2 separate regions of the Homo sapiens genome follow, and region 2 is linked to region 1. The links come from fine-mapping of genetic effects on gene expression. A gene starts in region 1. The other region holds a variant in brackets. All regions are shown on one strand. Distances are from middle to middle.

Region 1 (16,639 bases):
TGCCTGAGCCTCCCAACCCCCGCTGTGGGCTCCTGCGCAGCCCAAGCCTCCCCGAGGAGCACCGCCCCCTGCTCCAGGGTGCCCAGTCCCATCAACTGCCCAAGGGCTGAGGGGTGCAGGCACATGGTGTGGGACTGGCGGGCAGCTCCACCTGCAGCCCTGGTGTGGGATCCACTAGGTGAAGCCAGCTGGGCTCCTGAGTCTAGTGGGGACTTAGAGAACCTTTATGTCTAACTAAGGGATTGTAAATACACCAATCAGCACTCTGTGTCTAGCTCAAGGTTTGTAAATGCACCAATCAGCACTCTGTATCTAGCTAATCTGGTGGGGACTTGCAGAACCTTTATGTCTAGCTAAGGGATTGTAAATACACCAATCAGTACTCTGTGTCTAGCTCAAAGTTTGTAAACACACCAATCAGCACCCTGTATCTAGCTCACGGTTTGTAAATACACCAATCAGCACTCTGTATCTAGCTCAAAGTTTGTAAACACACCAATCAGCACCCTGTATCTAGCTCAAGGTTTGCAAATGCACCAATCAGTGCTCTGTGTCTAGCTGATCTCACGGGGACTTGGAGAACTTTTGTGTCTAGCTCAGGGATTGTAAACGCACCAATCAGCACCCTGTCAAAACGGACCAATCAGCTCTCTGTAAAACAGACCAATTGGCTCTCTGTAAAATGGACCAATCAGCAGGATGTGGGTGGTGCCAGATAAGAGAATAAAAGCAGGCTGCCCAAGCCAGCAGTGGCAACATGCTCCAGTCCCCTTCCACAATGTGGAAGCTTTGTTCTTTCACCCTTTAAAATAAATCTTGCTGCTACTCACTCTTTGGGTCCAGGCTGCTTTTATGAGCTGCAACACTCACTGCAAAGGTCTGTAGCTTCTCTCCTGAGGCCAGCAAGACCACGAACCCACCAGGAGGAATGAACAAGTCCAGATGCGCCGCCTTCAGAGCGATAACACTCACCGCGAAGGTCTGCAGCTTCACTCCTGAAGCCAGTGAGACCACGAACCCACCAGAAGGAAGAAACTCTCAACACATCTGAACTTCAGAAGGAACAAACTCCAGACACACTGCTTTTAAGAACTGTAACACTCACCGTGAGGGTCTGAGGTTTAGTTCTTGAAGTCAGTGAGACCAAGAACCCACCAACTGCGGACACACCAGCATTTAAGAAAGACAAATTACTTGACTCTTTCCATGGCGGAAAAAAAAAAAGACAGTTTAAACCTCATTGTAATTACAACAGATACTTTTAAAAATTCTCTCTGGGCCGGACGCAGTGGCTCACGCCTGTAATCCCAGCACTTTGGGAGGCCGAGGCGGGCAGATCACCTGAGGTCAGGAGTTCGAGACCAACCTGGCCAACATGGTGAAACCCCATCTTTACTAAAACTACAAAAATTAACCAGGTGTGGTGGTTTGCACCTATAAATCCCAGCTACTCGGGAGGCTGATGCATGAGAATTGCTTGAACCCTGGAGGCAGAGGTTGCAGCGAGCCAAGATCATACCACTGCACTCCAGCCTGGGCAACAGAGTGAGACTACCTACAAAAAAAAAAAGAAAAATTCTCTCTGATACAATAGCAAACTGTTACCGTCTTCAGAGTGTAACTTCTCTGGGTTTTTGTTTTATTTTTTTGAAACAGGGTCTTCCTTTGACATCCAGGCTGGAGAGCAGTGGTGTGATCCCAGCTCACTACAGCCTCAAACTCCTGGGTTCAAGCAATGCTCCTCCCTCAGCCTCCCGAGTACCTGAGACCACAGGCATGCACTGCCATGCTTGGCCAATTTTTAAATTTAGTAGAGACAGAGTCTCGTCATGTTGCCCAGGCTGGTCTCAGACTCCTGGATTTAAGCAATCTCTTGCCTCAGCCTCTCGAAGTGCTGGGTTTACAGACATGAGCCACCATGCCTGGCCACTTTTCTCTTTTTATAGGTATGTTTTGAATAATTCATTAAAAAGTTGAGACAGGACCAGGCACAGTGGCTCATGCCTATAATCCAGGAGTTCAAGACCGGCCTGGGCAATATAGGGAGACCCCCATCTCTAGTAAACAATTAAAAACTTAAGCCGGGGAGCCGGGCACAGTGGCTCATGCATATAATCCCAGCACTTTGGGAGGCCAAGGCGGGCAGATTGCCTGAGGTCAGGAGTTCGAGACCAGCCTGGCCAGCATGGTGAAACCCGATCTCTACTAAAAATACAAAACTTAGCCAGGTATGTTGGCAGGCACCTGTAATCCCAGCTATTTGGGAAGCTGAGGCAGAAGAATCACTTGAACCCGGGAGGTGGAGGTTGCAGTGAGCCGAGATCGCGCCATTGGACTCCAGCCTAGGCAACAGGGCAAAACTCTATCTCAAAAAAAAAAAAAAAAAAAAAAAGCCTGGGCTGGGCAACACAGCAAAACCCCATCTCCACCAAAAAAAAAAAAAAATTAGCTGGGCGAGGAGGCACATGCCTGTGGTCCTAACTACTCAGGAGGCTGAGGTGGGAGGATTGCCTGAGCCCAGGAGATGGAGGCTGTCGTGAGCTGTGGCTACACCACAGCACTCCAGCCTGGGCAACAGACTCTATCTCAAACAAAAAAGAAAGTTCAGACAGGAAAAAAGAGTGGTACTTTAACTAGACTAGATAAGGGGAAACTTTTCCAAGTCAGGATCTGACTGATGTTTTCATTCTTTCCCTTTTTATATCCCTGCCTTCCATCTGCTGAAATAGCAAATAATAATTCATTCACAATTTATCATGTATCAGACACTGTGCTATGAGCTTTATATAGATGATTTCACTTAATCTTTGAAACAATGCTATGTGATTGGTATTATCATCCCTGTTTAAAGATGAATGTGGGCTGGGCACACTGGCTCACACCTGTAATCTCAGCATTTTGGAAGGCCAAGGCAGGTGGATCACCTGAGGTCAGGAGTTCTTGACCAGCCTGAACAACATGGTGAAACCCCGTCTCTACTCAAAATATAAAAATTAGCCAGGTGTGGTGGTGCGCCTAAAATCCCAGCTACTCAGGAGGCTGAGACAGGAGAATCGCTTGAACCCAGGAGGCAGAGGTTGCAGTGAGCCAAGATTGTGCCACTGTACTCATTCCAGCCTGGCCAACAGAGTGAGACTCCATCTCAAAATAAAAAACAAACTTTTAAGATGACTTCAGCTCCAGCCACCATCTGAGTGCATGAGAGACTTCCAGTAAGACCTGCCTAGTTGAATCCAGGCAACCTGAAGAACCACAAGAAGGACTGTTGTTCCTTTAAGCCACAAAATTGAAGTGATCTGTTACGCAGCAATAGATAACCGGAACAATGAAGAAAAGCAGTATAAGAAAAAGTAACATGCCTGAAGCTGCCATGCCCACCCGGTTCCAAAGCCCACGCTCTTATCAACTGCACTGTGTCACTCTTTGCTCTCTACTGTTGCAAACGATGCCAAATAAAAAGAAGGACAGGAATACTCCACAGAATAACACACCCCTAAACACAGGGCATCACCTAGAAAACAAGTACAAAAATATACCTAGAAAATCCTGACAGACCCCTGTAATAATCTAGCATTCCCAGCCCCACTCTGACCCCAAGCTATGGATCCAATTTCACCATTACTCACTTTTCCTGATCATTCTACTTCTATAACTCTGTCTCTGTGATTTCCAGTTCTGGAATATTCTCTCCATTGTTAACTATTTTTAAATCATTTATTTAATGATCAGGATGTAAACCAGGGGGATAAAAGGTTACAATAATTCTTAGAGTACATTTTAAGGTAGAAGGAAGAAAGGGAGAATAAAGATGTCACCACTAAACCAAGTAACCGAAAACTACCAAAATGACCATCTAAAAGAACATACCAAACAATACTAAATATACTTTAAAAACAAAAGTTTACAAGAAGTAAATCATAAATGTACATTTTTTGTGTATTTTGTTTTGTTTTGATTTTTTTTTTCTTGTATTTTTTGGTTGAGATGGGGTTTCACCACATTGGCCAGGCTGGTCTCGAACTCCTGACCTCAAGTGATCAGCCAACCTCGGCGTCCCGAAGTGCTGGGATTACAGGCGTGAGCCACTGCACCCGCCCCATAAATGTAAATTTTATATGTATACACACATATACTTTTTTTTTTTTTTTTGCTCTGTTGCCCAGGCTGGAGTGCAGTAGTGCGATCTCAGCTCACTGCAACGCCCCCCTCCCAGGTTCAAGCGATTCCCCTGCCTCAGCCTCCCAAGTAGCTGGGATTACAGGCACCTGCCACCACGCCTGACTAATTTTTGTATTTTTAGTAGAGACGGGGTTTCACCATGTTGACCAGGCTGGTCTCGAACTCCTGACCTCAAGTGATCCACCCACCTCAGCCTCTCAAAGTGCTGGGATTACAGGCGTGAGCCACTGCACCCGGCCCACAAATGTAAATTTTATATATATATACGCATATATACATATTTATTTTCTTTTTTTTTGAGACGGAGTCTCTTGCTTTGTTGCCCAGGCTGCAGTACAGTGGCCCGATCTCAGCTCACTGCAAGCTCTGCCTCCCAGGTCCACGCCATTCTCCTGCCTCAGCCTCCCGAGTAGCTGGGACTACAGGTGCCCACCACCACGCCTGGCTAATTTTTTGTATTTTTAGTAGAGCCGGGGTTTCACCGTGTTAGCTGGGATGGTATTGATCTCCTGAACTCGTGATCTGCCCGCCTCGGCCTCCCAAAGTGTTGGCATTACAGGTGTGAGCCACTGCGCCCAGGCAGCATATGTACATATTTCTATATAGGTATACACATGCAGTGCTAACATTAGTCTTTTAAAAAGGGAGAAATACACATTTATATATTTATATATAATATATATAGAGAGAGTAAATTACTGAAAGTGATGCCTCTAGGTAGTGGGGTATGAAGAGTCTAAGAGGAAGGCCAGGCACAGTGGCTCGCGTCTGTAATTCCAACACTTTGGGAGGCTGAGGCGGGTGGATCGCTTGACGTCAGGAGTTTGAGACCAGCCTGGCCAACATGTTGAAACCCCGTCTCTACCAAAAAATACAAGTTAGCTGGGCGTGGTGGTGCACACCTGTAATCTCAGCTACTTGGGAGGCTGAGGTAGGAGAATCACTTGAACCCGGGAGGCAGAGGTTGCAGTGAGCCAAGATTGCACCACTGCACTCCAGCCAGGGTGACACAGAGAGACCCTGTCCAAAAAAAAAAAGAGTCTAAGAGAAAAAGAAGGTAGATAAATAAACCAAATGATCAAATCTAACTTCAGCAAAACTGCAACGAACTGACATCAGGCACTCTGGAAGGGCCACACTGACAGAGACACAACGTTGCCTCTCACATATTCCTGGTAAAAACATTTAAGCTGAAGCTAATCATGAGGCGAAAATCAGACAAATCCAAATTGAGCGATATTCTGCAAAACACTGGGCTGGATTCTTTAAAAATGTCATTTGGCCTACAGAGGACAGCCAAATAAAAATGAAAATATCATTGTCATGAAAGACACAAAAGGCAGGGACACCATATTAAAAGAGACCAAAGAGATATGACAACAGAATACAATTGGTGATTCTTGATTGGATAGAAAAAATATAAACAACTATAACACATGTTATTGGGATAAATGGAAAAACTGAAATATGGACTGTGTATCAGAGTATTGTATCATTGTTAAATTTTCTAAATGTGTTATTTGTACTGTGATGATGTAGGAGAATGTCCTTGTTCTTGGCAGATAACTGCTGAAAGAAGTGGTGAATTATTAGTAGTCTACAACTAACTCTTGAAAGGTCCAGTGAAAATAAATACATAAATGGGAGAGAGAAAACACCAGAGCGAAAGCGAGCACACAAAAATAAGGCAAAATGGTGCAGCTAAGTGAAGGACGGGTTTATAAATATTCAATGTACTGCTCTTGCAACTTTCCTGTACATCTGAAAATTTTCAAAACAAACAGATGGGAAGAAAAAAATGAATATAGTACAAAATATGTGCAGTATCATAGTCTGCACTGTAAGTAAAAGTGTAAAGTCTTTTGTAGACCTTGGATTCTAACTACAGCTTTGTAGTGCATTAATGAAAAAGGTAAACATTAAACAATATCCAACAAAATAAAATAAAAATAAAAATGCCTTGTAAAGGGTGAATGAGATTAATTATTTTAAATGTTATGCAATGTACACCATTGACAATTAGGATACAATGCAAATTTAACATTATAACTACTCCTAACATAATATTTTCACAGCAAAGGTCTGAATTTTTACTGCACCTCTGGTTCACAACCATAAACAATTATATCTGTACAGTAATAATAATTTTAAAAACATCATTCTAGCTGGTTGCACTTGGATTGTCAATAATCCACAAATCCCACTAAAGAAAATTTTTTACCCGTTACATTTTCTAGAATGACTACCTCATTTCCCAACTTTGAAGTAACAGCTTTTAACTAAAAGGTTGCTTCAAAACTACTATTAAAAAGTGGTTCCTATAAAACACTACTGCTTGACCCAAAAAATAAAATAAAGCACACAGCCCAGCTTTCCTCTCAATTGGTCACTAAACCAGTATCATGAAAAGGCAGGGAGCCACGCTGTAAGCGCTCCCCCGTTTTCTGCCGAATGTTCAGGAAAAGAGTGTCAGGTTCAAGCCAGCATTTAAAATAAAATAAAATGAATCACAGTCAACTCCCTAAACTCCAATGTAAGAACCACGCACCTGCACCAAAATATGCCTGAGCGGGAACTCGAGTCGGCTCTCCGAGACCCCAAAGTTCCCAACCTAGCCCCAACCCCTCAAGCTTCCCCCAGGGGCACCGGCTTCTCACAGCCGAGGGGGATTCGGGGCCCACATGCGGAGCCTCCCGGGCCTGTCGAGCCACGGCAGAAGGCGACGACGCCCGGCCCCACAGGCCCCTCAAGCTCCTCAAGCTCCCCCAGTCCCTCCCTCCCCCGCCACTCGCTCTCCAGTCCCTGCCCCTTTCCCCGGCCCCACTCACTCTTCATCTTGGATGCGGAAGCCGGTGACAACCCCTTGCCGACACTGGACGGAAAAGAAAGAAGCAGGAAGGTTGTCCCCCTGCTTTCCACTTCCCTGAGGCGGGGTCCCGCACTAGGATCTCCGTGGTGGTCCCTCGAAGGAGAGCGTTAGAGATCCCGCCGCCATGTTGTGTCCCTGTCACCCTAGCAACCGTCAGGCCCTGAACGCCATGAGCTGTCGCCTGCGCATGCGCAAGATGCCCCGCCCATGTACGCGTGCGCAGTGCAGCCCGTCCCCTCAGCCCGGTTGCTAAGCAGCCTTTCCTCCGCTTCCATGTAAATACTGTGCAAATCCCCGCCTTTGACACAGGCGACCTTCGCTCGGCTCGCTCTCCCTGCTGGCCTGGGAACTTAGCGATTTGGAACCCACTACGTGGACGATAGCCTTGAGCTTTAATTGGGCTTGGGAGCTTCTACAGGAATTTTTTTTTTTTTTTGAGACAGAGTGTCGCTCTGTTACCCAGGTTGGGGTGCAATGGCGTGATCTCGGCTCACTGCAACCTCCGCCTCCCGGCTTCAAGCGATTCTCCTGCCTCAGCCTCCCAAGTAGCTGGGATTACAGGCACCCACCACTACACCCGGCTAATGTTTTTGTATTTTTAGTAGAGACGGGGTTTCACCATGTTAGGCTGGTCTCGAACTCCTGACCTCAGGTGATCCGCCTGCCTCGGCCTCCCGAAGTGCTGGGATTACAGGCGTGAGCCACCACGCCCGGCCCAGTTTTTCTTTTTAATTCAACAAGCATTTGTTTTTGCCCCAGGAACTGTCGCAGGTATTGGGGATTAAAGGACAGTGTAGACGAGGTGACTGAGTTCTTGAAACTAACATTCTAGTGTAAAGATGAATGAATGTACACCGGAATGAACTATGTGCAGACACGGTGCCTAAGCAACACAGTGGCCTAGTTCTCTGGACCCTGACAAAACAATAAAATAACAAGCATACTATGTATGGGTATAGTATTTTATGAAGCTCATTAGATTAGCCTCATAATTATTCCATGAGATCAAAACCCTGTTTTTTCCTCCATTTTTTTTCTTTTACTAAAATACATCGTTTATTTTTAAAACAGATAAGTAGCCTTGCCAAAACGAAGCCTCAGAAAATTGGTTTAAGACTGAATTGGCCAGGTGTGGTGGCTCACACCTGTAATCCCAGCACTTTGGAAGGCCGAGGCAAGAGGATCGCTTGAGGCCAGAAATTCAAGACCAGCCTGGGCAACATAGAGAAACCCCACTTCCCTCTTAAAAAAAAAAAAAAAAAAACTCCGGGCGTGGTGGCTCACGCCTGTAATCCCAGCACTTTGGGAGGCCAAGGCGGGCAGATCACGAGGTCAGGAAATCGAGACCATCCTGGCTAACACGGTGAAACCCCATCTCTACTAAAAATACAAAAAAAATTAGCCGGGCGTAGTGGCGGGCGCTATAGTTCCAGCTACTCCGGGGGCTGAGGCAGGAGAATGGCGTGAACCCTGGAGGCGGAGCTTGCAGTGAGCCGAGATTGCACCACCTGCACTGCAGCCTGGGCGACAGAGCAAGAGACTCAAAAAAAAAAAAAAAAAAAAAAAAAAGCCGGGCACGGTGGCACATGCCTGTAAACCCAGCTATTCAGGAGAATAAGGCGGAGGTATCTTGAGACCAGGAGTTCTAGGCTCAGTGAGCTATGATAGCACCACTGCACTCTAGCCTGGGTGACAAAGCAAGACCTTGTCTCGAAAGAAAGAGAAAGCGGCCGGTCGCGGTGGCTCACACCTGCAATCCCAGCACGTTGGGCGGCCGAGGCAGGCAGATCACTTGAGTCCAGGAGTTCGAGACCAGCCTGGCCAACATGGGGGAAACCCCGTCTCTACTAAAAAAATACAAAACGGCTGGGCACAGTGGCTGATGCCTGTAATCCCAGCACTTTGGGAGGCCAAGGCGGGTGGATCCCCAGGTCAGGAGTTCAAGACTAGCCTGGCCAAGATGGTGAAACCCCATCTCTACTGAAAATAGAAAAATGAGCCGGGTGTGGTGGCAGGCACCTGTAATCCCAGCTACTCGGGAGGCTGAGGCAGAGAATTGCTTGAACCCGGGAGGCGGAGGTTGCAGTGAGCCGAGATTGCGCCACTGCACTCCAGCCTGGGCGACAGAGTGAGACTCCGTCTAAAAAAGCAAATACATAAATAAAATACAAAACAAGCCAGGCGTGGTGGCTCACACCTATAATCCCAGCACTTTGGGAGGCCGAGGAGGATGGACCAACTGAGGTCAGGAATTCGAGACCAGCTGGCCAACCAACATGGTGAAACCCTGTCACTACTAAAAATACAAAAATTAGCCAGGTGTGGTGATGCGCTCCTGTAATCCCAGCTACTCAGGAGGCTGAGGCGGGAGAATCACTTGAACCCAGGAGGTGGAGGCTACAGTGAGTCGAGATCCTGCCACTACACTCCAGTCTGGGCGACAGAGCAAGACTCCATCTCAAAAAATAATAAATAAATAAATGGTTACAATGGTGAATTTTATGTAAATTTTCTCTCAATAAAAAAGTTGAAAAAATAAATAGCGATTATTGCTGGTGTATTATTGTTGGTGGTGCTATCTTTGTTGGCTTTGAGAAGCCACATCTAATCTCTCCAGACCACTAGGATTTGATCTATCCCTTCTTCTCTTCTTGTGTTCTTTCTTATTTGGGGGCTTGCCCTTATGTCACATTTATATTTCTAACCCTGTCTCTTGCTTGTTAGTTTCTTCTAACCAGGTGGGTTCTAAGTTCCTTGGGCCCCTCATGTGTCTTTTCTCTACCCTGCAGGGCAGAGTGTATTAAATAAGTGAACAGGTGAATGCATTTAGCAAGTGAGAGCCCCATTGTTTCCCAATTCACCAGGTGCTGATGGATTTTCTTCTTCCCTTCATTGTGGACAAGTGGTTCTCAGAAGTGACGTTGTAGAGACCATGTTGGTCCTGATTGGGCAGATGATTTAGAGCAAGGTGCCCCCAGGGGGTAGACACAGTCTATGTGCTTACCTAGGTGAACAGGGGCAGCTGGACTTGCGGCCTCACCTGCCCCTCTGGCTGAGCACCCTTGTTCCAAGTTCATCTTAAGGTTGGGTGAGGGGACGAACTCCAGAATGTTCCATTCGATCAGGGATTTCCGCCCCATTATTTCTAAATCTGTAAGTCTGGAGTGGGGGATAGTTTGCAGCTCTCACAAAATTCCAGGTGATGCTGCACCAGTGGCCATATTTTGAAAACCACTGGCCTAGAGAATTCCTTATTCTTTCTTTAATTCTAAATGAAATAGGAAATGCTGCTTTGAAAAGAAGGAACAATTGCTGAGGAGCTTCTCTTCCTGTGGTAAACACGCTCAAACATCAGCGGAGGGGTCAACCTGTTCAGGCTTCAGCTGGGTGGCCTCAGCACCTGCCTAGCTGGGCCACTCCAGCCCTGAATGGACAGATAAGTAAGAAGTACCAGGCTGTGAACTCCTCCAGAGAGGGTCTTCACCCCAAGCCTCTCACCTGCCCAGCTCACCCAGAGCCAGGAGCCTGCTCAGCACATATTACATGCTCAGGAAACGCTTGTGAAATGGAACCACCACGCATCTCAGAGCTCTGCTTTTTTTTTTTATTAAGTTATTATTTTTAAATTTTTTTTTTTGAGACAGAGTCTTGCTCTGTCACGCAGGCTGGAGTACTGTGGCTTGATCTCGGCTCACTACAACCTCTGCCTCCCAGGTTCAAGCAATTCTCCTGTCTCAGCCTCCCAAGTAGCTGGGACTACAGGCACGTGCCACCACACCTGGCTAATTTTTGTATTTTTAGTAGAGATGGGGTTTCACCATATTGGTCAGGCTGGTCTCGAACTCCTGACCTCAGGTGATTCACCTGCCTCAGCCTCCCAAAGTGCTGGGATTACAGGCGTTAGCCACCGCGCCCAGTTCCAGAGCTCCGCTTTTAAAACTGTATGAACACTACCTAATTATAACCACTTGAGCTTTTTGAATCGTTCTAAAACTCCCTCAGACTGTTCATCCCATATTCTAGCATTAGTTTTTCCCTATTTGCCAATGTCAAGGGATTCAGCCATGTGGCTATGTTTAGCAGACAACCTATTTCCTTCTGCTGAGCATCTGAATTAAGGTTCAAACCAGGAAACAAGTCAGAAAAGCTAGGGATGACAGACATTTCAAACGTGTTAACACTGTTAAAGTGGGTAAAACGCAAATCTACCTAAAGATATTAGAAATTAGATTGATTTTGTAAAATAATAAACACATCTCAGGGAAAACTAAGCTTGAACAAGGATATTAAATAAGGAGGAGCAAAAACATTAGCCACTGAAATTAACATGAAGGATGGTAGTTAACCAAGCACTCTAGAAATTAGATCCTGGTCTAGTGTGGATGCAAAAATAGGTAAAATTCTGTCTACGAAGAAGTCTGTGTAGGTTTCTGAGAAAAAGGAACTCAAAGAAATACATTTAGAATTTTTTAAGTGTAAGAAAAGGTTTCCTGGCCAGGAATAGTGGCTCACACCTGTAATCCCAGCACTTTAGGAGGCCGAGGCAAGCGGATGGCTTGAGCTCAGGGGTTCGAGACCAGCCGAGGCAACATGGTGAAACCCCTTATCTACTAAAAATACAAAAAATTAGCTGGGCTTGGTGGCAGGTGCCTGCAGTCCCAGCTACTCAGAAGCCTAAAGTGGGAGAATCACCTGAGCCTGGGAAATCGAGGCTGCAATAAGCCATGTTTGCACCACTGACCTCCAGCCTGGGCAACAGGAGAGAGCCGTTGTCTCAAAAAATAACAATAATAATACAAAAAATACAAAAATTGGCCAGGCGCGGTGGCTCATGCCTGTAATCCCAGCACTTTGGGAGGCTGAGGCCGGCAGATCACAAGGTCAGGAGTTCAAGACCAGCCTGGCCAAGATGGTGAAACCCTGTCTCTACTAAAACTATAAAAAAATTAGCCAGGCGTGGTGGTGGGCACCTGTAATCCTGGCTACTCTGAGGCAGAGAATTGCTTGAACCCGGGAGGCGGAGGTTGCAGTGAGCCAAGATGGCACCACTGCACTCCAGCCTGGGCAACAGAGGGAGACACCGTCTCAAAAAAAAAAAAAAAAATGCAAAACTTAACTGGGCATGGTGGTGCATGCCTGTAGTCCCAGCTGCTCAGGAGGCTGAGGTGGGAGGACCATTTAAGCCTGGGAGGCAGAGGCTGCAGGAAACCGAGATGGTGACACTGCACTTCAGCCTGGGCGACAGAGCCAGACCCTTCCTTAAAAAAAAAAAAGAAAAGAAAAGAAGAAAAAAAAGGAAAGAAAACAAAAGAAGGCTGGGCGCGGTGGGTCACACCTGTAATCCCAGCACTTTGGGAGGCCAAGGAGGGCGGATCACCCGAGGTCGGGAATGCAACACCAGCCTGACCAACATGGAAAAACCTCGTCTCTACTAAAAATACAAACTTAACCGGGCATGGCGGCACATGCGTGTAATCCCAGCTACTCAGGAGGCTGAGGCAGGAGAATGGCTTGAACCCAGGAGGTGGAAGTTGCAGTGAGCCGAGATTACGCCATTGCACTCCAGCCTAGGCAACAAAAGCGACACTCCGTCTCAAAAAAAAAAAAAAGAAGAAAAAGAAAAAGGCTCACTGGATCGTTCACCTCCCGGGTTCAAGCCATTCTTTGCCTCAGCCTCCGGAGTAGCTGGGATTACAGGCGCCCACCACCACACCCAGCTAATTTTTGTATTTTTAGTAGAGACAGGGGTTTCACTGTGTTGGTCAGGTGGAGTCTTGAACTCCTGACCTTGTGATCTGCCCGCCTCTGCCTCCCAAAGTGCTGGGATTACAGGCATGAGCCACAGCACCTGGCCTTAAAATTCAGCTCTTAAAGTGGTAGGAGAGAGACTCATACTATGTAACTCCTGCCAAGTTGTAGTACTGCTGTTTTCTTGTTTTTGTAAAGCAGGGATAAAAATATCCACTGCAGACTGGGTGCAGTGGCTCACGTCTGTAATCCCAGCACTCTGGGAGGCTGAGGTGGGTGGATTGCCTGAGGTTCAAGAATGGCTTGAACCTGGGAGGTGGAGGTTCCGGTGAGCCTTTTTCTTTCTTTTTTTTTTTTTTTTTGAGACGGAGTTTTTTCAGACGAAGTTCAAGACCAGCCTGGCCAACATGGTGAAACACTGTCTCTACTAAAAATATAAAAATCAGCCGGGCATGCATGGTGGTGGGCGCCTGTAATCCTAGCTACTTGGGAGGCTGAGGCAGGAGAATCATTCAAACCCAGGAGGCGGAGGTTGCAGTGAGCCGAGATCACACCACTGCACTCCAGCCTGGGCAACAGAGCAAGACTTTGTCTCAAAAAAAAAAAAAAAAATACCCACTACAAAAGGTAGTAGAAGGCCGGGCATGGTGGCTCAAGCCTGTAATCCCAGCACTTTTGGAGACCGAGGCTGGTGGATCACCTGAGGTCAGGAGTTCGAGACCAGCCTGGCCAACAAGGTGAAACCCCATCTCCACTAAAAATACACAAAAAAACTAGCTGGGCATGGTGGCACACATTTGTATTCCCAGCTACTTGAGAGGCTGAGGCAAGTGAATCGCTTGAATCCCGGAGGCAGAGATTGCAGTGAGCCAAGATCGTGCTATGGCATTCGAGCCTGGGCAACAAGAGTGAAACTTGGTCACTAAAAAAAAAAAAAAAGGTAAAAGGTAGTAGAAGATTAAATGAGATGTCCACGTGTCCATGATGAATACTCTACAAATGCTCATTGATTTTTACTCAAAGTCTAACACAGGGCCTGGCAGAGCAGGTGCTCAATAAATACTTGTTGGGGCCAGGTACAGGGGCTCACGCCTGCAAACCCAGCACTTTGGGAGGCCAAGGCTGGAGGATCACCTGAGGTCGGGAGTTTGACACCAGCCTGACCAACACGGAGAAACCCCATTTCTACTAAAAATACAAAATTAGCCGGGCGTGGTGGCACATGCCTGTAATTCCAGCTATTCGGGAGGCTGAGGCAGGAGAATCTCTTGAACCCGGGAGGTGGAGGTTGCAGTGAACTGAGATTGTGCCATTGCACTCCAGCCCGGGCAACAGGAGGGAAACTCTGTCTCAATACATACATACATACATACATACATACATACATACATACATACATACTTGTTGGATAATCAAGAAGCAATGCCACCTGCCACTTGTCACCTGCTCTGTCATTCCTTTCTGGCAGGGGCAAGCCCAATTTTAAATGACTATTGAGGATCCAGGACAACCTTTAACTCTTGATAAAATTAAACGGGCTGGTGAGAGAGAATCCTTGCTTACTTGAGTTTATAGAAGCCATGTGGCCTGTTCTTGGAGACCCAGAGAGGAAAAGGGCTTTGTTTGCCAAGGTTCCTCACTTGCTGGTGGCTCCCCTGGGCTTGGATCCTAGTTCGTGGCTTCCAGTTCCCTGTCTTCTACTGCTTATTATTATTATTGCTATTTTTTTTTTGAGATGGAGTCTTGCTCTGTTGCCCAGGATGGAGTGTAGTGGTCCCATCTCGGCTCACTACAACCTCCACCTCCCGGGTTCAAGCGATTCTCCCGCCTCAGCCTCCCAAGTAGCTGGGATTACAGGCACCCGCCATCACGCCCAGCTAATTTTTGTATTTTTGTAGAGACAGGGTTTCACCACATTGGCCAGGCTGGTCTTGAACTCCTGACCAAAGGTGATCTGCCCGCCTCTGCCTCCTAAAGTGCTGAGATTACAGGCGTGAGTCACCACGCCCAGCCTATTATTATTATTATTAGTTTATTTATTTTTGGGAGAGATGGAGTTTCTCCAAGTTGTCCAGGCTGGTCTCAAACTCCTAGGTTAAAGCGATCTGCTCGCCAAGGCCTCTCAACGTGCTGAGATGATAGGTGTAAGCCACTGCGCCTGGCCTTCTACTGCTCTTTCCTACATCTAACAAAGACTTTGGGCCTGGCGCGGTGGCTCCGCCCAAAATCCCGGCACTTTGGGAGGCTGAGGCGAGCAAATCACCTGAGGTCAGGAGTTCAAGATCAGTCTTGCCAACGTGGTGAAACCCCGTCTCTACTAAAAATACAAAAATTAGCTGGGCTTGGTGGTGGGCGCTTGTAATCCCAGTTACTTGGGAGGCTGAGGCAGGAGAATTGCTTGAACCTAGGAGGCAGAGGTTGCAGTGAGCCAAGATCACGCCATTGCACTCCTGCCTGGGTGGCAAGAGCGAAACTCCATCTCAAAAACAAAATAAAAAAGACTTTTGAGACTTTGTCAAAACTTCGCAATAATGTACGTGCTTCCAGGCCAAGGCAGGTGGATCACTTGAGGTCACGACTTCAAGACCAGGCTGGCCAACATGGTGAAACCCCATCTCTACTAAAAAGACAAAATTAGCCGGGCGTGGTGGTGAATGCCTGTAATCCCAGCTACTCAGGAGGCTGAGGCAGGAGAATCACTTGAACCCGGGAGGCGGAGGTTGCAGTGAGCCGAGCCAAGATCGCGCCATTGCGCTCCAGCCTGGGCAACAAGAGGGAAACTCCGTCTTAAAAAAAAAAAAAAAAAAAAAAAAAAAGGTCTTCAGAGTGACTTTAGTCCATTATGACTGGCGTCTACACAAAAGGGGCGATTTGGACATAGGGACACACAGGGAGAACAGTATGTGAAGATGCAGGCAGAGATCAGAGTGAAGCTTCTACAAGCGAAGGAAGGCCAAAGTTGGCCCGAAATCCACCAGAAGCCAGGAGACAGCCTGGGGCGGTCTCCGTGGGAGCCTCCGAAGGAAGCGACCTTCCCGACACCCTGACTTTGGACGTCTGCCTACTAGAACTGTGAGGCCATATATTCTGTTGTGTGGCCACCTACCTTATAATACTCTGCTGTGGCCGACCTGGGAAACTAACACAGCGGGTCGTTACTGTCAGACCAAAGGTTCCAACTTATAAACAGAATGAAACATTTCGTAAGTTGAGTTTAAAGAAAATGGATTATTTAAAATGCACATGGGCCCCCCGCCCCACATTAAAAAAACAAAAAACAAATACAAGGCGGAGGTTGCAGTGAGCCGAAATCGCGCCACTGCGCTCCAGTCTGGGCGACAAGAGCGAGACTCCGTCTCAAAAACAAAAACAAAAGCAAGAAAACAAGCCCGAATGGTATTCTCTACCACTTAATTCTGAAAGTATGTAGATTCGTGTTTTCGTCACTCAGAGAATGAAAATTAGCGTTTGTTTGTCTAAGAGCTCTAAGACGGGGTGAGAAGTGGAGGAAGAGGTCCAGAGGAGGAAAGAAAACTGCTCGCCCGCGCCCGCCCTGCAGCTGCACGTGGGTCGCCCTAAGCCTGGGTTCGGAGCTGATGGCGCAGGTCCCAGGTGCCCTCTAGCGGCTGACGTCAGTCACGGCGCCCCGGCCCCGGCGCGCCCCGTCCACTCTGCCCACTCGGGACGCGTGGCTTGAAGTCCCGGGAATGCCACGGTTGCACCCACAAGGGTCGATCAACTCGGCTTCCTTCAGGAGACCTGGACTGACCACCCGCTGTGTGCCAAGCACTGTTTAGGTGCTGGTAAAATAGAGCCCACTGCTCCTGGAGTTCGCTCTAGCGG
Region 2 (10,709 bases), 72 kb before region 1:
CCCAGAGCCCCGGCCAGCGCGAAACGGACGCAGGCGCATCCCCAGCCCTCCGTGGCGTCTCAGCAGCAGATCACCCAGGCCTGGCCCGGTCGGGCTTGGTGTTGCCTCCGAAGTCGAGACGACGGTGCTGCTCAGTTATCTTCCGCCTTTCCGCACTATGGTGGGCAGGCGACACTGCTGCGGGGCAGGCTTAAGGTCCTTCTGCGGATCTGTCTGTCAAAGAAAAATTACAGACACAAAATTCAGTGGCGGCCTGGGCTGGGTCGAAGAGCAGCGCCGTCAGAGAAGCTGGTTCCGCGCTACCTTCTTGCTCGCAGGGATGCACTTCAAGGGTCTCAGCACCGGCACTCTTCCATTTGTTCCAGATCCAAGCACGGACTGCAGCGTGGGGCTGGAGTAAGACGACAGTCTGACCACTCCCGAAAGCTTTAGTTTGGGCAGTTCCATGACATAGGCCGGTCCTCGTCTCTTGGGACGGTCCTCCTCTTGCTTTAGGGACTGTTTCTTGAAACAGAACAGAGGCCAGTTGGACATAAAACGCTTTCTGCTTTATGGAAATTAGGAAAAACGAAAGAGGCTCTTTTGTACTGCTTTTGCCTAATACAATTTCTTGACCATAAGATGTGACTGGGACACATCCACCAGGTCCCAGACACCCCAAGGGAGTGGCTGCCCACTAGAGTCCCACGGGGGAGGCCAAACCTTCAGGGGGAACCTGAAGAATGCCGACTGCAAGCTGAGCAGTGCGGGCGGCAAAGGGCTCGCGGGCTGTGGTGCCCACGCCTCCTGCCTCCTGCTCTAGCTCCAAGGTCTCACACCCTGATCTGCCTGTCGCCTGGTTTTGGGTGGCTTGTGAGCTAAGGATGGTTTTACATTTGGGGTTTTTTGTTTGTTTGTTTGTTTTGAGACACGGTGTTTGTTGCTCTGTAGCACAGACTGGAGTGCAGTGGTGCAATCTTGGCTCACTGTAGCCTCAGCTTCCTAGGCTCAGGCGATCCTCCTGCCTCAGCCTCCCAAGTAGCTGGGACCAAAGGCACGCACCACACCCAGCTAATTTTTAAAACAGATGGGGTGGTGGGGCAGTGGTCTTGCCTACGTTGCCCAGGCTGGTCTCAAACTCCTGGCCTCAAGTGATCCTACCCTGGCCTCCCTAAGCACTGGGTTTACAGGTGTGAGCCACCGCACCCACCTGGTTTTTATTTTTAATGACTGAAAAAAAAATGTTTCATGGCATGTGAAAATTATGTGAAATTCAAATTTTAGTGTCCCCAGTTCTACTGGAACGCAGCCCCTATGTGGTTCATGTGTTGCCTCCAGCTCCTTTCACACTGCAGCAAAGCAGGGAGTGTAACGAACACCCCACGGCCACGGGGCCTAAAATATTTCCTATCAGACCCTTAGAGAAAAATATGCCGACCTCGGATGTGACTGAGGGTGGGGACTTGGGTGAATGCCGGCCAGGAGTGACATCAAGGGTTTGAAGCAGACCCTCTGTCCAGGAGGGAGCGGAGGCAGAGCAGGGACAGTAGTGAGGAGGCCATCTGTGGTGACTTAGGCAAGGTGAGGAGGATGTAGGAGGCAAGAAGGCGAAGCCCCTGTGGGATGAAGGAAGGGTCCACGGGGGGCCTGGGCAGTTGACGGAGTTGCCTCCCTCGGAGGGAAGGCCATGGGAAGCCACAGGGAAAAAGCACGTTTGGGGAAAGATCAGGAGAAGGGGTTTCAGCAAGTCTGTCTTTCGGACATTCAAGTGGAGCTGTCAAATCAGGGACCAATGGGACACAGGAGCCTGGCTTTCTGGAGAGCAGCCTGACTGCAGCTCTGGGTTCCCAGCTCCCAAGCGGTCAGGGAGCACTCGGTAAAGGCTGGGAGGAGCGAGTGACGTACGGACGACCGAACAGACGAATGATGGAAGGGCACACTGTCACACTGTTGGGGTGCCAGCCCAGAACTGGGAGACTGGTGTGACCCTGCCAGCAGGTGACACAGGGCTGCACCAGGCTAGGATGCCACACGGTAGGTGGGAAGGTGAAGGCACTGAGGGGCAAAGCTGGCATTTCTCAACCGAAAATGTGCACAACCTCTGCTGATGGGACGAAGTGCTCATCTGGAGCCAGGCAGAGACAGTGACTTGAGACCTGTCACTGGCTGGGTGGGTGACTTGGGCCAGCATTGCATCTTCTTGGCGCCTCCCTCCAGGGCCGTTCTGAGGGGCGATGTCTGCACGGTGCTTTGGCATAGAACCTGGCACCTGCATATGGTCATCAGGACAGACACAAAAGTTCATGCAAACATCCCCTCTCTGGGCCTGCTCACATGGGATATTCGTCATCAATTCTTAGCTACTGGGGCAGAAAGGGCTTGAGCAAATAGAACTGGGGTCCCTGATGTCCCAACACATGGAGCCATCAACTCGCATGCTGTTCAGGCCTCGACTGACAATGTGGTCTGCCACAGCCTCCACAGGTGGCGTCCTCCTGAGAGAGACACAGGCCACCCGAGGGCATCCAGTCCCGGCTGAGCTAGGCAGTCTCCGGCTCCGATTTCGCTTAGTACCTGCTTTCTGCCCTCCTTGGAAATCTGGCAGCTGTTACTGAGTGGTTCCGGTGCCACAGGGTGCTCCGGAAAGCCAGCTTTTCTGTGGCTGCCCAGAGCCCGCTTCTCTGTTTTCCTACGGGGAAGGAGAAGAGAATGGAGCAGCTCCACTGAGAGCCCGCAGAGCACACGGCCTACTGGCTTCTTTGTCTCCAATTTGTCTACTGTGTGAGTTGTCACTAGCTCTTCTTTTCTGCCTGAGCTGTAATCAGGAGCCTTTTTTTTTCTTTTCTGTCTCAGCCTGACAGTCTCTGGGCCAGGAACAGAGCTGGCTCCATGAATCAGAAGCGCTGCCTACCCAGGGACTCGCAGTTTCAGATCAAACTGTCACCTCCACAGTTAGGCAAACAGGAGTGTCCAGAGGTCCGGAATTAGGTGACCTCAGGGCAGACAGGTCTTAGATTCACATTCAGCAGGTACTTCCAGCGCCAGGTGACATCCACAGTGCTCTACCATCTCAGAATGCATCCTGTTCACACCATTTACAAGGGCCGCACACCAGGCTCTTCTAGAAGGATTACTACCTGTAGCCTTGGCATCAACCGCAAAGTGGACAGCCAGCCCCTCTTTCTCCTGCCGTGGAGCTGCTAACATCCTCATTTTGGGGAGGATACACCAGAAGGCAGCACGGTGTGGGCCCCAAGAGGCCCTGACCACTCTTCAGGATAGAGAGCGCGATTCCCAAGAACCAGGGACCCTCCAGGGGGCAGTACCTTGCCCCACCATGTGCCCATGGGTCTCATTTGCCAGGTCCTGCATCTGCCCCACCGAACCCACGAGAGTGCCTACCTCTGTTCTTGGAAGTAGGGGTGCTGCAGGGCCTGGTGGGCGGCGATTCTCTCATCGGGATCATAGGCCACCATTGCGTGCAGGAGGGAGAGGCATTGTGGGGACAAATTGGTTGTTAGTAGAGGTATTCCTGATCCCTTTTTAAAAGGAAAATCAAAATTCATAGCTCTCGACCTGTATTAAAAACCCAATGATAATAAATGGTCATGCTGTCACTGAGCGCACCGGTGGTCCACTGTCACAACTAAGGGCCCTGTGTGGTGGGGAATGGTTTATGACTGCAGAGTCTACACCTGTCCCAGCCCACAGAACGTGCACCACCAAGAGGGACCCCTGATGTAAATGATGGGCTCTGTGTAGTAATGAGATATCCACGGTTCATCGACCATAATAAACACACCACTCGAGGCAGGTGCTGACGACAGGGGAGGCTGTGTGCACATGGGGACAGGGCTCTATGGAAACCTAAAACTGCTCTTAAAAAAATCTATTTAAAAATAGTCTATTATAAAGGGGGGGATCTGTTATGCTAAAAATGTAAGAAAACTACCTTTCCTATAAAAGATTAATATCACCTTCCCACATGAGAAGAATGAAATAAAATTTAACAAAAAAAGAAGAGTCCAAAATGGTTGCCACCTTCTCCCTCCCTGGGATGTGGGGGCCGCTGGGTGCTACTTGCCCCTCAGCCCACAGGCCCTCCCTGGGAAGTCCCAACTCCCAGCCTCAGCTTCACCAGAATGACCCTAAGAGTCCGGGAACACCTCTTCCAGGCGTCGGTCCCGCCAGCAGGGCTGTGGAGGGCTGCAGAAAGCCCTCACCACCTATGCTCTGTGCTTGGGGAACGTTTCCACCCAAAGGCTTCTAAGTCCTGTTTAAATTACTCAGGGAACACAGCCTGACTCCCCAGCCCTCAGAAAGCCTGTGACAAATCTTTCTGTGATGCTCAAGGAAGAGCTCACCTTTGAGACCACTTAAAGTGATGGGCTCTGTCTGAGCAGCCACTCACTGGCCCTCAAGTGAACTTGAACCCCTGTAGTCAGCCAAAGGAGCTCCTGAGAGGGGTTTGAGGGAGGCACAGGGAGGGGCTTGCCCTGCTGCAGGTCCTAGCAGGGGAGTGGGTCCACATCCACTCTCAGAACACAATACTTACTGTTTGAACTTGGTGAGGATCTTCTGAGCGGGTGTGCCGATGACATCGTGGATTTTTGAGATTTGGTCCAGTTCATTTACTCCAGGAAAGAGGGGCTGCAGACTGGAAGGGCAGAAGGGGCACTGTGGTCAGTGTTAGGGCAGAGCCAACAGACCTCACCAATTACAAACCATCTGGACCGCACAAGGGGAGATCGTGGGAAGCATAAACAAACTTTACCTACACCCTTCTGTAAGTTCCTGCTGTTCATCTAGCTGCTACCGTAAACATCACAAGGTGATATGTGGCAAAATTAACCAGCAAACAACCCCGGGATGTGACCATACCGAAGAACTCCCTCAAACTCCCTTCCCCAATATAAACCCCTCAATCTGTAAGCTTGGGGCTGCTTCCTCTGACTGTTAAGCGGCCGGTGGCAGGTTAATAAAAACTTGCTTGCCTGACTTTAGGTCAATTTTTCCTTTCTCTCGGATGACCTAACATTCTGGTGCCGAAACCCGGGAAGGGGGATAGACTCTGGCCAGGACTCGCTCACTATCAATCTCTCTCTCTCTCTCTTTTTCTCTCTCTCTCCCTCCCTCCCCTATCACCCCTCTCCTGGCCAATCTCCCCTTCCCCGAACCTGCCAAAGACCCAGACAATCTCCTAGACTCTCCCATTGCTGGTGACTTCATCCACCATCAAAGCCTCCGCCAGGGTGAGTAAAAAGAGACTGTTGCCATTCCCTGAACTCTTGACCGTCCATCTCCCATTTCCGAAAGACCCAGCGCTGGGCCAAGGGCTTCCTCCAGCCTCCAGGCCTCTGGTTCCTCCGTTTCAGGGACGCCTGACACGGTGGTTACCTCCTCTATTCCTGACAAGTTCCGCGGGAAAGGGGACGTCACCGGCAGTCTCTTCTTCCTCTACCCCCCTCCCTTCCATTCACTATGGGAGCCTCTCAGTCTATTCCTCCTAAAACTACCC[C/G]CCTTGGGTGCCTCCTACACAATCTGTATACTCTTGGCCTCCGTTCAGAAATCTGCCCTAAAAGGCTTATCTTTTACTGTAACACCACATGGCCTCAATACAAATCAGACCATGGCTCCCAATGGCCTGAAAATGGCACTTTCGATTCCGACATGCTCAGAGACTTAGACAACTTTTGCCACCGCAGTGGGAAGTGGTCTGAGATTCCTCATGTTCAGGCTTTCTTTACTCTCTGTAGTCGTCCCTCCCTCTGCCAGTCCTGCTGTACTTTTCAAATTCTCCTCGCCTGCTCCAAACCCGACTCACCTCCTGCTCCCCTCATCCCAATAGCCCCAGCGGACGACTTCTCCTTCTTTGATCCCACCGATTTCTCCCCTCCTCGACAACATCCTAATCCTCCACCGGAACAGCATGACCCCCCACCGTATGCCTCCGCTCCGGCTCTACCTCTCTCTCCCCTTCTCTCCAACCACCCCACCTCCGACTCTGAGTCCTCCCCATCTCCACCCCTTACTCGTTCTCGAGCCCAACACGCCCAGCAGCCTGCTCCCTTGCTTCTTCTCCGGGAAGTGGCATGGGCCGAAGGGATGGTCCGTGTCCACGTCCCATTTTCCCTCTCTAATGTTTCCCAAATTGAGAAACGTCCAGGTTCTTCTCCGATCCCGACACTTACATCAAATAATTTAAATATCTCACCCAGTCTTATGAACTTACTTGGCATGATCTCTATATTATTTTGTCTTCTACCCTCCTTCCGGAAGAAAAGGAAAGAGTGTGGCTTGCAGCCCAGGCCCATGCCGATGACCTCCATCGGCAAGATCCTACTAGGCCAGTAGGGGCCGCTGCAGTTCCCTGAGAAGAGCGTACCTGGGCGTATCAACCCACAGGCCCCTGCCAGACCTCCTGTAATCATATGATTACTTGCCTCACTGCAGGCCTTAACAAAACTGCCCATAAGGCTGTAAATTTCGAAAAACTCAAAGGAATCTCCCAAAAGGCCAATGAAAACCCTGCCCAATTCCTTTCTCGCCTTACAGAGACTCTCCAAAAATACACGCGTGTCGATCCCGCCTCCCGGGAAGGAACTATTGTTCTTTACATCCATTTTATTTCCCAATCTGCCCCCGACATCTGGCGCAAACTTAAAAAGGCTGAAGATGCCCCTCAGACCCCACAACGAGACCTCCTTAACTTGGCTTTCAAAGTCTTTAATAACAGGGATGAGCAAAATAAATTAGATAAAGCCCAAAGAGATCGTGCTAAATACCAGCTTCTAGCAGCGGCTGTCCATCAACCCAGCCGTATCACCCAAGGGCACAAAAGACCCGATAGCAGCAACCCTCCGGGCCTTGTTTTAAGTGTGGCAAAGAAGGCCACTGGGCATGGGTGTATCCTAACCCTTGAGTGCCAAAGAGTCCTTGTCCAGTGTGCCAGCAGACAGGCCACTGGAAGTCCGACTGTCCTCTCAACAGACAGACAAGCCTGCTCCTCAGAGCCACCACCCCTTTAACAAGACAAAAAGTGAAGAACCGCTTGCATTCCCGCAGCTCCTCAGCCTAGCCGCTGAGGACTGACCGGGCCCAGGGCCCCCGGCCCCATCTGCCATCACTGCATTGGAGCCCAGGGTAACTCTGCGAGTAGCAGGTAAGCCGATCTCTTTTTAAATTGATAGCGGGGCCACCTACTCAGCTTTGCCTGAATTTTCAGGACCCACTCATCCCTCTCAGGTCTCAGTTGTGGGGGCTGATGGACTCATCTTGCGTCCACGCGCCACCAGACCCCTTACTTGCTCTCTGTTTGATACTGTTTTCCCACACTCTTTCCTTATCATGCCTCGTTGCCCTACCCCCATCCTAGGCCAAATTCAAAGCCAAATTCAAATTCAAATTTTGGCCAAATTCAAAGCTTCTATCACCTTTTTCTCCCTCCCTCAACCGGAGTCCCTCCTACTCCTCTATGCGAGTCCAGCCCCTGACCCCTCTCCCCAGTACCCACTTCCCACCTCTTTTGTAAACCCAACAGGGTGGGACACCACCACCCCTTCCCTAGCTACTCACCACGACCCCATCAAAATCCAGTTAAAAGACCTCTCTAAATTTCCCAGCATCCCCAAAAACCCTATCTCCCTAACCCACCAAAAAGGCTTACAGCCCATCACAAACAAGCTCTGTTCACGCCGTCTTCTTAGGCCAACACGTTCTTCATATAACACCACCATCCTCCTGGTTAAAAAATCAGACGGCTCATACCGACTCCTGCAAGACCTCCGAGCCATCAGTCAGGCTGTCTTTCCTATTCATCCCATAGTCCCTAACCCCTCTACACTTCTCTGTCTCATTCCCTCCAACACCACCTGCTACACTGCTATTGACCTAAAAGATGACTTTTTTTACTATTCCCCTGCACCCTGATTCCCAAAACCTCTTTGCTTTCACCTGGACCGACCTTGACACCCTCCAGTCACAACAACTAACCTGGACTGTCCTCCCTCAAGGCTTCAGAGATAACCCTCACTTCTTTGGACAAGCTTTAGCTCAAGATCTCACTTCCTTAAACCTTTTCCCTAGCCGTCTCCTTCAATACGTGGACAATCTTCTCCTTTGCAGCCCCTCTCTAGAAGACTCTCAAACTCACACAGTTACTCTCTTAAAACTTTCTCTCCATCAAAGGGTATAGAGTCTCCCCCTCCGAAGCTCAACTTTCCACCTCCATAGTAACTTACCTAGGAGTTCAACTTTCCCCTGGGACCCGGGCTATGACCCCTGCCCTAGCAGCACTAATAGATAATCTGCCCTCGCCCTCCTCCAAAAGCGAAGTTCTTTCCTTCCTAGAACTAGCAGGCTTTTTTAGAATATGGATTCCCAACTTTGCCCTCCTAGCTCACCCACTCTATGAAGCAGCCAAAGGCCCTCTCAGTGAGCCTCTAAATCCCTCACGTAACATACTCCCCAACTTCTGCAAACTTCAAACCGCTCTTGTCACTGCACCAGCTCTGTCCTTACCTGGTATCTCCCAACCTCTCACACTCTATACTGCCAAAAGATGAGGAATAGCCCTCGGTGTCTTAGGGCAACAGAAAGGAGACCCTCCTTCCTTTGCCCCTGTAGCCTACCTCTCTAAACAGTTAGACAACACAGTCAGAGGATGGCCAACCTGTCTTAGAATGCTAGCAGCAGCGGCCACTTTAGCTGTAAGCAGGAAACTAACATTGAGTCAAAATACCACCACCTACAGTCCTCATAATCTACAGGATCTCCTCTCCTCCCGAGCATGAGGCTCCCTCCTTTCCGGATTCAATTACTCCATGCCCTCTATCAAAAATCCTGAATTCGGTCTTGCCAAAAGTGCTCCCTTCAACCCAGCATCCTTACTCCCTGTATCTTCTTCCCTTCCTACTCATTCTTGCACTGACGTCCTAGATCACCTGCAGCCACACTTTCCTAACATTTCCTCCGAGCCTCTCACCAACCCCGATGACCAGCTATTTATAGATGGCCCCCCTTCTGGGCCCACTGGCTCCCCCAAAATTGCTGGGTATGCAGTTGTTTCCCTTGACCGAGTAATTGAAGCTAAGCCCCTACCTCCAGGAACCTCCTCTCAAAAAGCAGAATTCATAGCTCTCACCAGAGCCCTAACCCTTTCCAAAGGCAAACGAGTCAACACTTACACAGACTCCAAAGATGTATATCACATTCTTCATTCCCACGCCACCATCTGGCAAGAGAGGAGATTCCTTACTGCCAAAGTGACCCTATCACTAACCACCCCCTTATTTACCAACTCCTTCAAGCCGCACATCTCCCAACTGAGGCAGGAGTTATACACTGTTGGGGACATCACACAGGAACAGATAAAATCTCAAGAGGCAACAGAAAGACCAATGGGGCAGCAAAAGAAGCCTCCCTTTCTTCCGCTCCTGCCTCCCTCCTCCTCATTACCCCTGCAGTCCAACCTCAGTACCCCCCACTGAAAAAGCCTCATTACTATAACAAGGAGCCTTCCTCCAGGGGGACTGGATAGATAAGGACCAGAAGCTAGACCTTCCCCAGGGCCAAACCGACAAAATCCTGACATCTCTCCACCAATCCTTCCATATTGGTGCATGTCCCCTATATCTCCTCCTCCGCCCATATTTCTTCTCCCCTCACCTATTTACCTCACTAAAAAGTATAACTTCAAAATGTCATATATGCTCTGTCACCTCCTCTCAAGGAGCCCTCCATTCCCCATCTATTCCTACACACCAGCTAAGAGGAACACTCCCAGGGGAAGACTGGCAAATAGACTTCACCCACATGCCTCCCGTCAAAAACACAAGACTACTTCTCACTCTTATAGACATCTTCTCTGGGTGGGTGGAGGCATTTCCTACCTCTTCAGAAAAAGCTGCAGTAGTCTCCCAGATCCCCACAAGAGAAATCATCCCTAGCTTTGGTCTCCCTCGCTCCAATCAATCAGACAATGGCCCTGGCTTCATTTCCCAAATCACCCAACAGCTCTCCCAGTCCCTCAGCATCCAGTGGCACCTCCATATCCCATATCGACCCCAATCATCAGGAAAAGTCGAAAGGGCAAATGGAAACCTTAACACTCAGTTGATCAAACTCACTCTAGAAGTCCAGAGGCCCTGGACTTCCCTCCTACCCATAGCTCTAGCCAGCGTCAGAGCCAGCCCAAAGGCACCCTCCTTCCTCAGCCCATTTGAATTAATGTATGGATGCCCTTTCCTCTTACAAAACAGGCCTCCTTCTGAGACCCTTTCCTCTTACAAAACAGGCCTCCTTCTGATTCTCAATTAGGAGAGTACCTCCCAGCACTCTCCCTCATCCGCCATCTCCTCTGCAAACAGGCACACCAGGCCCTCCCAATACCACATAAAGGCCTCACTGACCAGACCCTCCTACCAGGAGAACATGTTTTTCTAAAAACCCTTAACCCGGCTGGGCACAGTGGCTCACGCCTGTAATCCCAGTACAGTGGGAGGCCAAGCCTGGTGAATCACAAGGTCAAGAGATTGAGACCATCCTGGCCAACATGGTGAAACCCCTTCTCTACTAAAAATACAAAAATTAGCCGGGCATGGTGGCAGGCACCTGTAGTCCCAGCTACTCGGGAGGCTGAGGCAGGAGAATCACTTGAACCTGGGAGGCAAAGGTTGCAGTGAGCTGAGATTGTGCCCTGCACTCCAGCCTGGCGACAGGGCAGGACTCTG

Direction of the effects. Alleles are on the strand shown, and positions count from the first base shown. SD is a standard deviation of normalised expression in the study named.
For the expression in subcutaneous fat of the gene that starts at base 7,210 in region 1, G is the low allele of the variant in region 2 and C is the other (small effect, 0.27 SD a copy in GTEx).

What was found. PIP is the estimated chance that this variant, and not a neighbour inherited with it, causes the effect.
Region 2: its variant is fine-mapped to the expression of MOK in subcutaneous fat (GTEx, PIP 0.91).

The regions. Positions count from the first base shown.
Region 1 is chr14:102,297,955-102,314,593 of GRCh38, forward strand. MOK (MOK protein kinase) reads right to left here and starts at 7,210. Exons shown (of 12, transcript NM_014226.3): 1 at 7,008-7,210. The coding sequence starts at 7,014. RefSeq lists enhancers at 7,091-7,613, 7,380-7,429, 16,229-16,639, 16,623-16,639.
Region 2 is chr14:102,229,154-102,239,862 of GRCh38, forward strand. MOK (MOK protein kinase) reads right to left here. Exons shown (of 12, transcript NM_014226.3): 8 at 4,535-4,636; 9 at 3,382-3,555; 10 at 2,554-2,668; 11 at 304-504; 12 at 1-213. The coding sequence ends at 136. Among named protein-coding and RNA genes, the nearest start is that of MOK, 71 kb to the right of the region's middle. RefSeq lists an enhancer at 1,962-2,462. The variant C/G (reference allele first, on the strand shown) is at 5,498.